Homo sapiens: one gene and its partner. The protein of the gene in region 2 interacts with the protein of the main gene of each other region in a pairwise test. Each region holds a gene or a part of one and is shown on either strand. Other genes may lie near its edges.

Evidence for each region. The genes of interacting proteins can lie anywhere in the genome.
Region 1: the proteins of NPAS4 (region 2) and ARNT2 interact in a two-hybrid assay, tested with the Homo sapiens proteins (one study listed by BioGRID).

The regions. Positions count from the first base shown.
Region 1 is NC_000015.10:80,399,462-80,407,498, forward strand, and holds the start of ARNT2 (aryl hydrocarbon receptor nuclear translocator 2), read left to right. Parts: upstream 1-4,920; 5' UTR 4,921-5,054; coding exon 5,055-5,085; intron 5,086-8,037. UniProt on the Homo sapiens protein: Transcription factor that plays a role in the development of the hypothalamo-pituitary axis, postnatal brain growth, and visual and renal function. Specifically recognizes the xenobiotic response element (XRE).
Region 2 is NC_000011.10:66,416,899-66,424,034, forward strand, and holds the start of NPAS4 (neuronal PAS domain-containing protein 4), read left to right. Parts: upstream 1-4,281; coding exon 4,282-4,456; intron 4,457-5,221; coding exon 5,222-5,373; intron 5,374-5,552; coding exon 5,553-5,655; intron 5,656-5,775; coding exon 5,776-6,043; intron 6,044-6,224; coding exon 6,225-6,334; intron 6,335-6,341; exon of another isoform or gene 6,342-6,477; intron 6,478-6,679; coding exon 6,680-6,815; exon of another isoform or gene 6,816-6,936; coding exon 6,937-7,136. UniProt on the Homo sapiens protein: Transcription factor expressed in neurons of the brain that regulates the excitatory-inhibitory balance within neural circuits and is required for contextual memory in the hippocampus. Plays a key role in the structural and functional plasticity of neurons.

The DNA of each region.
Region 1 (8,037 bases), on a different chromosome or scaffold from region 2:
TTCCCTTTCACTTCCAGCTCCCCTTCAAGGTGGTGTCTAGGTGGTCAAGGAGGGAGTGGTGGGAGAAAAGGGAGCCTTAGAGCCTTGCCCGCCTCCATTCTGAGGGGCTGGGATGGTCATTTGGCTGGTGAAAATTAAGGTATCTTTAGGAAGACTCACACTGAGAGCTGATATCTGTGGCCTTGGTTTGGGGCCTTGTTCATTCAATCTTGCCTACTATAGCCTTTTAGTCCTCACCCAGATATCTGTTAATTTAGACCCTCAATGCCTTCATGTCTCCTCACCTGTGGGACACCTAGCATACTTCACAGAGCCACGAGGAGCCAGGAGTGCCATATAAAGCCCAGCTTTGCAGCTACATCCTTCGATCCCTGCAGAACCACCCTGTGTGTTATCTTCCCCAAGACTCCCACATGGGTGGTGGCCAGAAACCCCTCTGCTTTTGGCTATTCCATCAGCTGCCTTGATATACCTTCCACGGAAACTAGAGCACCTGGGTCTGACTGCCTGTTTCCCCTCCCACCCTCCTTCCTTCCTTCTCTCCACTCTCCATGAAGGTAAAGCACGACAAGCTTCCCCTTCCTATCTCTGTGGGACAGAGACTTGCCATACTTTTCTTCTTCCCTCTGCAATACTATCACAATACATTTTAAAGTCTCTAAAGTGTATACAGCACACACATTACTTCCTTCAATGTCATCTTCACCAAAACTCAGCACAGTAGGTAACATCATCCCCATTTTCCAGGTGAGGAAAGTGAGACTTAGAGAAGTTTCATGAAGTGACAGAGCAAAAACCTACACCACACTTTCGCTTCAAAGGCTGGTGCTTATGCCTTTTTGTATAAAACTAACATCTCATCCACATTTGATCTGTTATAAGTCCATGATTCTTGGTGTAAAGGAGAGACTTGATAGAGAAGAAGGCAGGGGTGGGGGCTGGGGGTAGTGCCTGGACAGACAATCCGTGGGCAGTTGTCACCTGTGTAGAAATAAAGATAAGGAGGTAGCAGTGGGGATAACACAGACCCATGAGCCTTTATCTCCAGCAAAGAGAGAGAGAGAAGTTAGAAAGAATGGAGGAGGAAGGAAGGGTTGAGAGGAGACATATAAATGGAGAGAAAGCCTGTGGTTATATCCATGGCAGCCCTACCATGCCTCTCCTTCTGCAGAAGCCCATGCGTTCATTCCTGGTTTCTTCATATCTTAAAGTGAAGTTAAAAGAACATAAAATTAGCCAGGCATGGTGGCTCACGCCTGTAATCCCAGCATTTTGGGAGGCCGAGGTGGGCGGATCACGAGGTCAGAAGATCAAGACCATCCTGGCCAACATGGTGAAATCCCATCTCTACTAAAAATACAAAAATTAGCTGGGAGTGTTTGGTGGGGGGTGCACCTGTAATCCCAGCTACTTGGGAGGCTGAGGCAGGAGAATTGGTTGAACCAGGGAGTTGGAGGTTGCAGTGAGCTGAGATCACTCCATTGCACTCTAGCCTGGTGACAAAGCGAGACTCCATCTAAAAAAAAAAAAACAAAACAAAAAACAAAAACAAATAAACAAAAAACCGGGTGCAGTGGCTCACGCCTGTAATCCCAGCACTTTGGGAGGCCAAGGCAGATGGATCACCTGAGGTCAGGAGTTTGAGACCAGCCTGACCAACATGGAGAAACCCCGTCTCTACTAAAAATACAAAATTAGCTGGATATGGTGGTGCATGTCTGTAATCCAGCTACTCAGGAGGCTGAGGAAGGAGAATTGCTTGAACCTGGGAGGCAGAGGTTGTGGGGAGCCAGGATTGCACCATTGCACTCCAGCCTGGGCAACAAGAGTGAAACTCCGTCTCAAAAAAAAAAAAAAGATAAAATTGCCTTGGATCATTATATATTATACAATGGAAATCCTTTGTCTCGAGTATTAGGACTTAAAGGGATATGAAGCAGAACTCAGGTGGCTGCTTTCTCCCATCAAGTTAAAAAAAAAAAAAAAGAAGAAAGAAAGAAAGGCTGTGGACCCTGGTACACATTAGCACAGCAGCTGGTCAACTCTGGTCATTTCTAGGAGCGCTGTGCTCAGAATCGTGTGCTATGGGCCCGGTGGATCTGCATTAATCTTTTCAAAAATGCAAATCTCAGCTTCAAATTCAACAGCCTCCTCTGGAATTTCAAAGAGTTCTGGGTTGTTTAAAGGTTGAGTGGAATTCCTGAGCCTGTGTTAACTGGTCACAGTCTACTGACTCTCATAATTAGCGCAAGACCACTGTGTTGTGTAAATGCCACTCAGTATTCAACAATGACTAACCACTCCATTTCAGATTGTTTACTTAAGTGGGGGGCTTTCATCCACAATCAGTGTTTCTGAGCATTTAACCTATTTAATACTGAGAGACGAGAGAGAAGGCGAGTTGCCCATTTCTCTATTTCTTCCCCTACACCCTAACCGCTCCCCAACTCCAGCCACCAAATCCCAGTATTGTGCGTAGCCCAGTTCTAAGTCTTGTCTGGCTATTAAGCTGCATGACGTTGGCTACCCTGAGCCTCAGTTTCCTTATCTGCAAACTCCAGGGGCAGAATTGGATGATGTCGAAGGTCCTTTCTACCTCTGAAATACACTGACTGGGGGAGAAGATGAAATGTCTCCTTTGTGAAAATCTAAACGTATTTATTACGTACCAAAAACCACAGCACGGCCGACTCCAGACTTGGGAAGTGTCTAGCAGTTGTCCACGTGTCGCCTGTCTTTTATTGCAATGGACCAGTGCAAGAAGTAGGAAGCTTGAGCAAGATCCAGTTTTAAAGATATCAGCCGAGTAACATTTAGAAAAATGGGCAGAACACAACAGCAGAGTAAGAAAGTAAAACTTGTCAACAAATTTGTATGGTTAAATGTGTGTGTGCGTAAGAGTCATGTTCACTCATATTTTATTTTTTAGGGATGATATTAGAACTGTATTTGGAGACAAAATGAGCCATGGGTCCTGGCTGAAATGCTAAACTGATACATAAACACCAAGGAGAGGAACTTGCTTCCTTCTAAGGGGTGTGGAAAGTTGGAGAATAAAAGAGCCTCGTGGGATAGGGGGCAGTGATGCCAAGTGCTATTTATGGGCTATTTATGGGCCACCAGAGATTGAACTGCCTGTGGGGAGAAGGATCCAGAAGGGACTCTGGGTAGCAGAAATATCTGAGATGGAGTTTTACCTTTTTTGATGTGGAGTGAGTGAAGAGAGCCTCCTCTTTTACTTTCCTTAAGAAATCTTCAGTCCAGTATACGTTATACATTAATTAAGTTGGTATTTTGAGTGTGTTGCTTTTCGGGGTATGTAGAAGAGAGGCTGAATTCTCATTTGGCTTGATGTTGGAATCAGGAACAGTCAACTTTGATACGGGGCACAAGAGCGGGCCATAGCTGATACCCTGGTTTCTCTGTCTGGGCCTGGCCTATCTTGTGGCTGGGTGCACACCTGCTTTATTTTTTACTTGAAATGTCTTCTTTTTCCACCTGTCCTACTCATGTCTTCAAAGCCTAATTTTCATTTTCCCTGATCACTCCACCTCCTCTCTGCCCTCATTCATTCATTAGTGACTACAGGCTGGAGATGCCAATTTCAGGGCTTCTGCCCTAAGCCCCCAAGGGAGCTGTGTGCTTCTTGAGTGCAGATACTTTGTTTCACTCTTCCCCACTCTACCCCCCAAACCAGAAGAACAGAGCTCCTGTTTCTTCCTTTCCATGGTAGGCCCAACACCTGGCTTTGTGCCTGGCACACAGCAGACATTCAACATTTGTAGAACTGATAGACTATTAGATTAGTAGTGACAAATACTCCCCGAAGAAAATGCTTATTTGAACATACATCCCAAATTTTCTGCCCTCCAGAAAATGCTTCCTTGGAAGGATTTAAGACAGTTTGATGTCTCTGCAAACATTATCTGCGTTTAGGGACCAACTTGCCCTTCTCAGCGTTCACCTGGGATGTCTTTATTCTTCCATTTAACCTTTACAGGGGACCCCGATGGTGACGTGTCCTTCCTAGGGGCCATTACCTCTCTCAGGGATCCTAGTGTCTGGTAGAAAACAACAGCTCCAAGTTCTCTGCATCCAAACTTCGCCAGGATACGCAGATAAACCTATTTAAAAAAAAAAATCTTTTTAAATTCTCAACTTGGTGGTGTAAATAAGGCCCTTGCAGCGCCCTCAAGTAATAATCAACGGCAGTCATTATGGAAGGAGGGTAGAGATGAGCGCCTTACTCAAAGCCAAGACATTCACAATTTCTCGGGCCGGCTGCCTGTGCCTGGGCGTGTGCACTGTGCACTCCGAAGCTGTGTGCGGCGGTGGCCTTGGAGGTGCGCGTGGCCTTAGGAATTCCCGCGGTCGGGCACCCTCCGCTTAACACCGGGCCGTGTCCCCGGCCTGGGAGCCGAGCAGCGCGGCTCTGGCATGCTAAGTGGGCAGCACTGGGGCGCCTTTGTTCCTCGCGGCCGTCTCCCAGGACCGGCTTCCCTCTGAATCTAAATGGGCTTCTCCCTCACCCGCTCCGCCCTGGCCTCCTGGCCTGGGCACGGCGCCCCTGGGTAAAGCGCGCCCGGACACCTGGGGCGTGGGCGTGCGGGGGCAGCCCGGGCTAGGCGAGCGCGGGAGAGGCGCCTGCGGTCCCAGCCCGGCCAGGCCCGAGCACCTGCGCGAGCCCGAGGGAGCGCCCGGCCCTCTGCCCCCGCCAGTCGCCGGCGCCCAACTTGGGGGTCCCGCCGTCCGCAGCCCCAAGTCTCGCGGTGCTACCGCTCTGACCGGGGAGCCGCGGGCCGGGCGCCCCCCGCCGCGCGACAAAGGCTGAACCGGGAGGAGGAGGCCGAGGAGGGGGAGGAGGAGGAGAGAAAGGCGGGGACGGCGAGCGGCCGCGGCGGCGGGGAGAGCGGAGGGAGCGCCGCCCGCCCGCGCCGTCCTTTGTGTGGCGGCGGCGGCGCCTGGGCCTGACCGGGTCCCCGGGGCTGAGCGCCGGGCTCCGCGCCGCCCCTCCCGCGCCCCTGCCAAGCGGGCGCCTATCCTCTCCGAGCAAGATGGCAACCCCGGCGGCGGTCAACCCTCCGGGTGAGTAGCGGCCTGGGCCCCGCCGCCCGCCGCAGCCCGCAGGCCTTGCCCGGGGCCGGAGCGGACCAGGCGCGCCGGGCGCCCCCGGGGGCGCGGAGCCGCAGCTCGGCGCGGTGGGTGGTGGAGCGGCTGTCACTACGCGGCAGCCGCAGCATCAGCACCAGAGCGGCATCTGCATCCCAATCGCTGCCCATCCGGTCCCGGGCAGGCGCCGGTCCGGACCCGCGGGCGGCCGGACGCTGGCCTCGCATCCTCGGGAACCCGAAGGGCAGGCCCGGGAGCCCCCGAAGTTCTGAAAATAACCGCCTTTGCCTTCCCCATCCCACGCATTTTTCTCTTCCGGTCCCGGCTTTTGTGGCATCACGGCGTCAGCCAGTCCTGGCTGGTGGAGGGCTCCGCGCTGACGGAGGGAAAAGTTTGGAGCTGGGATTCAACAGGGTACAACTCCCGGGACTCTCCCCTGCCCGCCCCGCCCACTAAGCGCTGGTCCTTTGCGCCCTTTGCGACTGGCTGCTGTGTGTCCTAACCCTCCGGGGGCACAAAACACCCAGCCTGTGGTCACCAGCGTGGAGCAGCCCTGGTCCTGCCCAGGTGACATCCTCTGCTTTCTGGTCTGACCTGTCCCCAGGGTGCAGTCTGTGACAACTGAGCTCATTAGGAAATATTTCAAAAATGGAAGAGTTCTTGATCAAGTGGCAACATTGACTTGTTTTGGTATTGTAGTAGGGAAGTTCCGTTTTCACTGGGAAAGTTCCCTACCTGATGAGCAGGGTGTGGGAGAAGAGAAACGTGAACATCTAAGCTAGTACAAACTTTTGGGTGTTGTGCAGAGGCTGCTGTGGGCACGGCAGGTTGCTGGGTCCCTGTGGAAGATGCAGGGAGAGTCACAGAGGGCGGCCCCCAGGAAATTCCCAGCAGAGGGAGGTCATGTGTTGGAGATAGGGAGGGTCGGGGGAGGAACAGCAATGCCTAGCAAAGAAAAGTGTCTCTCATCATAGAATTAGGAATGAAAGATCCCTTTCATCTAAGGCGGCCAGGGAAGGCTTCTGGAGATTGGACATTTCGGCTGAACCTTGAAAACGGGAATGTTTGAATATACAGAGCCAGTAGCAGAGGGGCATTGCAGGCGTAAGTAACAGTGGACTTGCTCTAAGCAAGTGCAGAGGTCAGTGAGTAGTTGGTGCACTGGGGATATAAGAGGCAGCAGTGGGATTTAACACTGAGTTGTTTGGATGTGACCAGGCTTTAAAGGACAGACTGAGGAGTATGGACTTTCTCTCTCCACATTAAGGGAGAGTCCTCTGCACACTTCCTAAGAACCAGAAAAATAAAATAAAATAGAAAAGAGAGAGAGAGACAGAGAGAGAGAGAGAGAGACCTCAATGGTATTGAACAAGGAAATCGCATGATCACTTTTTCTGGAAGACTGATTTGTCAGCTATGTCTAGGAAACATTCTAAGGAGGGAACAAGACTTGAGACAGGGAGGCCAGCATGAAATGAGGCAGGTGCTGGGGAGGCCAGAATTGGTGGCCATGGCTGGACCAGAGAGGAAGGAATGCACCACTGGGCGGGTAGAAGAGTTCCAGATTTGGCACTGATTAGATTTGGAGTAAGAGTAAAGGAGGAGGCCAAGGAGAGACAAAGGGGAGGTGTCCATGGAGACACCAAGGTGAAGAGCCTGTGTAATTCCAAGGAAGGCAGTTCCATCAGCAGAAATAGGGACTCTTGGAAGAACAGACAAGGAGGCCTCTGTCCAGAACACTGAGGAGGAACGTGGCTGGTCTGAAAACAAATCTGTGCCAGTTTGCCTGTGACTGAAGCTGCAATTTCAACCCATTCAACTACTTCAAAATCAATGGAAAATTGATAGATGTAAATGTTATGAAATTAGAAAAAGCAAAAGATGTTAAATGAAAACATTTTAGTCCAATATACACTGGGAACAGGAATAAAATCCCTGGTGATTTACATAATTTCTATGCCAGGACATCATTGTTTAAAACTTTTTTGTCCATTACATTGCTCCATGAGCTACATGGACTAAAGATCTAAAGATGGAGTAACTGCCCCTGGCCCCGTGGTGTGAAGCACAGGAAAGCCTGTGCCTGTGCCTTGGACTGCGGGAGACTTGAATGGTACAAGCATAGGGTATTGTTGGCGTTGCTAGTCAACACCTGGCCAGCTTGACAGATGCTTTTCTCTGTTGACAGCTATACCAGAGATCTTCAGCATGGTGATAATTTCTCAAGGGAAAATTCCTTGAGGTGATCACCTTTCCTTTTACCATCATTTCTTTTACTGGTCCCCTGAGGATGATCCGTGGGGATGTGTTATTATTGCCCCATGTGAATCTCCATCTTTTTCTTTGGGAGAAAGGGTTTAATTTTAAGGGACATGGCTCAGGGTTTGAGCCAAAGAGAGAGAGTTCAGATTCTATGGGCAATTTACAACAAAAAGAGCCATGGTACCCAAGCTTGTCACCCAGAGCCTACCTCACATGGGCTTGTGAGACTTCTTTGAATTCCTTTTTCTTCCTGCCTCCTTTCCCCAGATATGGTTGCTTTGCAAAGAATAAGAGCTTGGTAAACAGAACCAAATGGATGGGGAAGCACCAGGATTTATTTCTGCTGCTAGTTCGTGTCCAGGGTACAAAGGCCACAGCCAGTCACCTCCCCACGCCCCCACTTGTTCCTTTTTTCCCAGCTGACCACTTCACAACAGCAGAACCATTTACAATGACACTCTTCTGTGATGTGTAGTGGGGATTCTCTAGGGTCTTGTTGGTGACCGGTGATGTTGGGGTCTTCACGCTCATGTTACTCATGTTACTCTGTGGATATAATACAGGTCCAAATTTGGAATCTGCTCCTTCAAGGTCCCCTGTTGGGGTTTTAGGTTAGGATTCTACCAGCTACTCTGGGAGAGGAGAAGAAAGGATTGGGCTCCCAGA
Region 2 (7,136 bases):
GAAGCAGATTCCTCACCCACCCTTCAACTCCTTCCCAGGAGGTAATCCTCCTCCAAATCTCTGGAAAAGATACACCTCCTCTTCTCTGATAAAGGCTGGGGGGTGATGCCCCTCCCCCAGTTTCCCAATAAAGCTATGCAAGACAGGAGCAAGGGATCTCACGGCCTGTTTTTGCTACAAAAACCCTTTTTCGGAAAAAATAATAAAGAAAGGAATCAGCCAATCCCTCCTCGATGCCATCACCTCTTCTCGGTGATTTTTCGGGGAAGGAGTGGGTGGGTTGCTATGGCAACAGATGCGAGCTCGTCTCAGTAAAGAAGGGACCTTGATATTTTTTTCTCTCTCTCATTCTCTCAGTTGTGTGTGTGTGCGTGCATGTGTATGTGCGCCTGTGTGTGTGTGCATGCGCGCTACACATGCCTGTGCCCACACCAGGAATTTTTTTTTTTTAGAACTAAAGAAAGCCCTTCTCTTCTCTCAGCTCTCCAAATATGGAGTGATGGAAAACCACTTACTCCTGCAGGCCAGGGAGAATTCAGGATGATTCAAGAGAAAAGGGAGAGGTCATGTGGGGCTCCTTTCCTCCATGTTTTTACTAGAGATTGCATGCAACAAGAGAGCTTTGCAAATGGTTAGGGGGCCTTTGGAAAGAGGAGAAGATGTTAGGTGGAAAGAGGTGAGCAAGATATAGATGGTGCAGGAACTCAACGGGTGACCTCAGAGAGGGCAACAGAAGCTATATTGAGTCTGGGGACGCATGTACATCCCACCACACCATCAGATGCTGAAAGACCCAGAGCAGACTCAGATATGGACACAAACACAGACACTGACAGAAAGGCATATGGAAAATTGTAGACATAAATACACACAGGCACAAACATAGAACTGCACAGAACATAGGAAGTTGGAGACAAAAAAAAAAGACAAGCATAGATGCAGGCATAGGTAAACATAGATATACAGGGGTACAGACTCGCAGCTACAAAGACACATGCAAACAGATAGAGATGTAGACATCCAACCACCTCCAGACAGGTTTGGAGGCAGACACACAGGACACACAAACACAGTCTCAGTCAAATGAACACACACACACACAAACACACAGACACACACACAGAGTCTGGCTCTTTTCCTTCAATTGCCCAAGCATCCTTGAGCAGTAGTGCATAGCTGAGGATGCTGCACGCTTGCCCAGTAGGTTTGGCTGAGAGGCTTGCTCTCCCATTCCTTCTACACGCTCACCCCAAAGCCCCTCTCCCAATTCACTCCCTTGCCCACTTTCCCACAGCCAGCAGGCTCTGATGCCTCCCCCATCTCAGGCTTCTAATTCTTAGCTTGTTCTGCTGCTGCCTGCCACTTGGGGGAGAGAGTGGGGTGACTCAGCCAGGCCAGGATGACTCACACTGCCAGTATTTTTAGCAGCGGCCAGGAGCTCTCTAGTGTGCCAGCCGCCCCCCTCCTCCTGCTTGCTATTTCGGAACCGTCACTGGTGATATAAATAGCTCCTCTCCCACGGCCTGAAGCTGCTGCCAAGCTATTTTTGGTTCTGCACAGTTAAAAATAGCTTCACGGAGGTGGGAGGCAAGGGGAGTGGGAGCTGGCCTAGGGAGAGGAGACATTGGGGCACACAGAGCTTCTCAACTTGAATCAGAGTGGGCGAACTAGGATGAGCCCTTCTCTACCCCCTCCCTTGTCCCTTTCTAGACCCTTCTTCCCTTCCAAAGTGTTTCTTCCCATTCCATTCTCCTGGAAAAAGCCAGGGGCTCTTCCCCTGAGCCCAGTTCTCCTCCCTTGCTTACTTCACCCTTAGAGCCCAGAAATCTTGGCCCCCTGCAAACCCTCCATATTCATTCACAGAGAATAAGGGGACAGTCAAAGAGTAGGCTCACTCTGAGGCCTGTGGGTACCCAAGCCCTACGTCGATGTCCCCGGCAAACCGTAGCATGACTTCCATGGTGACTCTTTCAGCACCACGGACAGCGGTCGGCGCAGTATTCCTTCACTGCAGATTCGCTCAGATTGCTGGAGGCCATGACACCCAGCCAGTAGACTCCTCTTATTGTGGAGGGGGACACTCAGAATGCCTCACAGGCAGCTTTAGCATCAGTGAATGAAGAACACAGGAACAACCCCCCTGGAATTTCATACGGAAGGGGATCCAAAGATCAAGGGATTGTTCAAATGGAAGATTGAGAGAGGGGTGGGTAGGTACATTAGAGGTCAGATTGAGAAGAAAGAAGCAACACAGACCCATGTCCAGGAGGAATCATCTCTCTGTCATCCAGGTCAATGGGGTTAGAGACAGTGGCAGACAGATAAGCGGACATCGTTCCCTCCACCTCAGCTGTGACACTGACCACAGGATGGCCCCAACCTCTGCCAAAATGCATAAGACACCAGAATAGGGTCTCCACACCTTGTACACCTCTTCTAAGACATACTTCTCCTCAGCCGCCTCTCCTCCCACTCTACCTCTCTTACTACCACCCCTTTCCATGAGGAGCGGAGAGTTCCCTGGCCCCAAATTGTCCTTTTTGATGTCAAAGTTCATCTCCATGCTTCCTGTGTGACTGGGACTTCCCAGTCCCACCCTCCAATTTTTAAGTGGCCTCATTTCCAGCCACTTAAGTGATTCCATGCGCACACAGCTACTCCATCAAACGAGATTTCAGATAAGAACATTCCCTAGCCCACTTGCTTCTTGCATTATTGAATCCCAGGATAAGAACGGCACATCCTCGCCCCTGTAGAGAGCAATCATCTGTGGTGAAAAGAGAAAAAAAGCGGGTGTGTGGGGGGGTGGGGATAGGGCAAAGGTGACAGGATATGAAAAGGATAGAAAAGGATATGAAAGGACAGAAAAAGAAACGAAGGTGGAAAGTGGAGAGCTGAAGGTGGAGAGGCAGAGCCAGGAGCCTTAGAGGCGCAAATGTGGAGAGGGGTGGAGGGAACCTGGCAAAAATACAGGGTCCCTGGTAGGTGCAGGGGTCATGGAGGGTCCGGCGCTGCCCCTTCGCTTCTCAGCTGCTCCCCCATCTTGCCCGCCTAGGCAGGGCGGGGAGCCCTCCGGAGCGGTGCGGAGGCAGCCAGGCCCCGCCCGCCGCAGCCGCGGCAGCCGCCGGAGGATTCCTGTCCTAATATGGAGCTGGGATTCCCCCGGCCCCGCCCCCGCCCCCGGCCCGCGGGGAGACAGAGGCTGGCAGCAGGGCGGGGGGAAGCGCTCGCTTGGGGGCCGGCAACGGGGGGAAGGGATGCCTAAGTGCAGACCCAGGTCCTCGCCGTGCCCCCACGTCCCTGCCTCAGTTTCCCCTTCAGTAAGGTTAATTAGCTGAGAGGGAAACCACGAATCACTGCAGACTACAGCGCTGATGTTGGTTTCTATTCTTGGCTGTGGGAAAACAGGATCAACGCCAAATTCAGCTGGTCCCTTTCCCACCGGACTCCCTTTCCACCCATCCTCGGGACTTAGACCCCCATGAACACCCCCTGATAAGCCGCCAAGGCCCGATTTGGGAAGCGGGGGCGGGAATTTGTTCTCTAAAAATGGCCAAGGGAATCCCAGGTTAAATAGTCCCCAGAGAGGAACCCCAGCAGTGACCTGTCCCACGGAGGCCAAGGAAAGTCCTCCTTCCCTGCATGTGAACGTGACCTTGTCTGTCAAGTAACGAGGGGGATTTGTAGACAACCCTGTTCTTCCCCATTCCCTCAACTCCTCAGAAAAATTAGTGTCAGTGCCGGCCCCTCTCTGCCCTCTGCGGACTCCTGCCGCGGGCTTCAGGCCGCCCTAAACCTGGCCCTGTCGCTTCCCTCAACTGAACGCATTCAGACGCCAGGGTCCCCACACTCCATTCAAGCTTTCCTAACGCAGCGCCTTCCTCTCCGCTCAGCTCCCGCCAGGCTTGGCCCCCTCCGCAGCCTCCTGCTCCCCCCTCGCCCGCCTCCCTCCCTCTCTCATTCTACGTCATGAGATGACGTCGGAAGCCGGGCGGGAGGAGGAGCCCCCCTCCCCAGTCAGCGGCTCCCGCTGCAGCTTGCTTAGCCCAGCCTCCCGCTCTCCCGCCCCCCCGGCTCTAAAACGAGCCCCCCACGCCTGGCAGGAGCTATATAAGGCGGCGTGAGGCAGGCGAGGGGGGCAGCGCAGCCGAGCGGAGCCCAGGAGAGCAGAGAGCGAGCCTGAGCGAGAGACGGGGAAGCACGGAGGAGGAAGCCGCCGGTGCGTCGGGACGGGAGCGCAGGTGCTCGGGCACCCGAGCTGGAGCTCCGCAGCCGCCGGTCATGTACCGCTCCACCAAGGGCGCCTCCAAGGCGCGCCGGGACCAGATCAACGCCGAGATCCGGAACCTCAAGGAGCTGCTGCCGCTGGCCGAAGCGGACAAGGTCCGGCTGTCCTACCTGCACATCATGAGCCTCGCCTGCATCTACACTCGCAAGGGCGTCTTCTTCGCTGGTGGTGAGCATGCTGGGGCTACCGCAGATCCGAGCTGCCAGGCGCCGGAGACCCTGGAGCTGAGGGAACCCGCTGGGGCTGTCGCATGTCTAGGGCAGCGTGCTGGCGAGCTGGGGAGATTCGGGACTCGGGAGATTCGGGACTTTCTACTTTTCCTCCTGAGCTCCCTCCAGACCTCACCTTAGTTCTGAATGAGAGTTAGAGAGCCTGGACGGTGTCCCTAACACCAGATTATGAGAGGATAAGAGCCAGGACAGAGCGGCCTCGGTGCCCGCCAGTGCAGAAGCGCTCCGGGAGCCGGGGAGGGAAGCCCGGGAAGTTGCAGGGATGGAGCTGCCTGAGCCTAGGGGAACATAGCTACTGTCCGCGGTGCTGAAAGGGATCTCCTGTCGCCTTCGGGGCGCTGCCCATGGTGCTGACGGCTGCGCCGGCCGTGTATGGCTCTGTCCATGGTTCTGAACCCACAGTCGGCTTCGGAGCTCTGTCCGCGGTTCTGAAATTCAGAGCCGCTTTGGAGCTCTGTCCGCGGTTCTGAAATTAAGAGCCGAGAGGAGCCGACCCCGCTTTAGAAGTCGAGGGCTTGTGGGCTATGGAGATACAGCAACAGGTTCCCTGGCCAAGAGCTGCGGGCAGCGGGTCAACAGGTGTTTGCAGAGGCAGGTCCATGAGAAATTCCTCTGGATTCTCTGAAACTCAGACCATGCCTTCCTCACTTCTTCTCTGCCTCCCAGTCTTACTCCTGACGCACTACGTCTTCTCGCCCTACAGGCACTCCTCTGGCGGGCCCCACGGGGCTTCTCTCAGCTCAAGAGCTTGAGGACATCGTAGCGGCACTACCCGGCTTTCTGCTTGTGTTCACAGCCGAGGGGAAATTGCTCTACCTGTCTGAGAGTGTGAGCGAGCATCTGGGCCACTCCATGGTGAGTGCTAAGGGTCCTTTCAGCTGAGGCTGGGCATGGAGTGGGTGCCGTGAGCCTTCCACTCCTGAGGAACTGGGAATTACTATGGAGGGAGAGGTTATACCCTACAAGATACTGTAGATCAAAGATTGGCTCCTGCTGTTCTCCCTAATGGTCATCTCTTCTTTTCCTCCCTCCAGGTGGACCTGGTTGCCCAGGGTGACAGCATCTACGACATCATTGACCCAGCTGACCACCTCACTGTGCGCCAGCAACTCACCCTGCCCTCTGCCCTGGACACTGGTAAGGACTCCCTTCTCCCTTCCTCGGTCCAATTTCCCACCTGCTGCCCTTCTCCCCACCATCCACTGTCTCTCTCTCAGCCACTCACCCTCTTATCTGTTTTTCTCTTCATCTATCTAGATCGCCTCTTCCGCTGCCGCTTCAACACCTCCAAGTCCCTCAGGCGCCAGAGTGCAGGCAACAAACTCGTGCTTATTCGAGGCCGATTCCATGCTCACCCACCTGGAGCCTACTGGGCAGGAAATCCCGTGTTCACAGCTTTCTGTGCCCCTCTGGAGCCGAGACCCCGCCCAGGTCCTGGCCCTGGCCCTGGCCCTGCCTCGCTCTTCCTGGCCATGTTCCAGAGCCGCCATGCTAAAGACCTGGCTCTACTGGACATCTCCGAGAGGTAAGCCTGGAGTGTTCAGATTCCAAGAGAAAGGCAGGCCAGAGATGAAGGGACCCTAGATTCTGGAGTCAGGGGCAGGGAGGATGGGGTTTAGGGGGGCAGAGGATCTGGGAGGGAGTGAGATGCATGGGTATCAAGCAAGGAAAACAGAAAGCTGACCTCACCCTTTCCACCTTCCCAGTGTCCTAATCTACCTGGGCTTTGAGCGCAGTGAACTGCTTTGTAAATCATGGTATGGACTGCTGCACCCCGAGGACCTGGCCCACGCTTCTGCTCAACACTACCGCCTGTGTGAGTGTCCAGAGAGGCTGGGGACAAGATAGCAAGCTGGGAAAGGGCATGGGAGACCAGACAAAGAATGATCTGTAGTCAAGAGTGATGCTGGGGAGATAACAGAGGCCAACAGTTTCGGATGCTATAGGGTGAACATGAAGGTGAGGATTCAAGGCAATAATCAAATCAGAACTGGGGGACTCTGAGTGGTGAGGTCAAGGTAGAGAGCTGAGTGGTTCAGGTGAGGGTAGTCAGAAGAGAGGATGTCACGGCTATCTCAATTCAGTGGAGAGGTGACCAAGGGTGGGGAGTAGGTAGAATTGCCTGGTGGACATCCTAACTCTGCATCTTCTTTCTCCCCAGTGGCTGAGAGTGGAGATATTCAGGCAGAGATGGTGGTGAGGCTACAGGCCAAGACTGGAGGCTGGGCATGGATTTACTGCCTGTTATACTCAGAAGGTCCAGAGGGACCCATTACTGCCAATAACTACCCAATCAGGTAAGCCACAAGCCAGGGGACTAGGGGGCAGCTGAGGTCGTCATGGAGGAGACACAAATCAGGGAACTGCTCTGGATATGGACGTCGGACCCTTACCAGCTGCCTCTTCTCTCCTCTCCAGTGACATGGAAGCCTGGAGCCTCCGCCAGCAGTTGAACTCTGAAGACACCCAGGCAGCTTATGTCCTGGGCACTCCGACCATGCTGCCCTCATTCCCTGAAAACATTCTTTCCCAGGAAGAGTGCTCCAGCACTAACCCACTCTTCACCGCAGCACTGGGGGCTCCCAGAAGCACCAGCTTCCCCAGTGCTCCTGAACTGA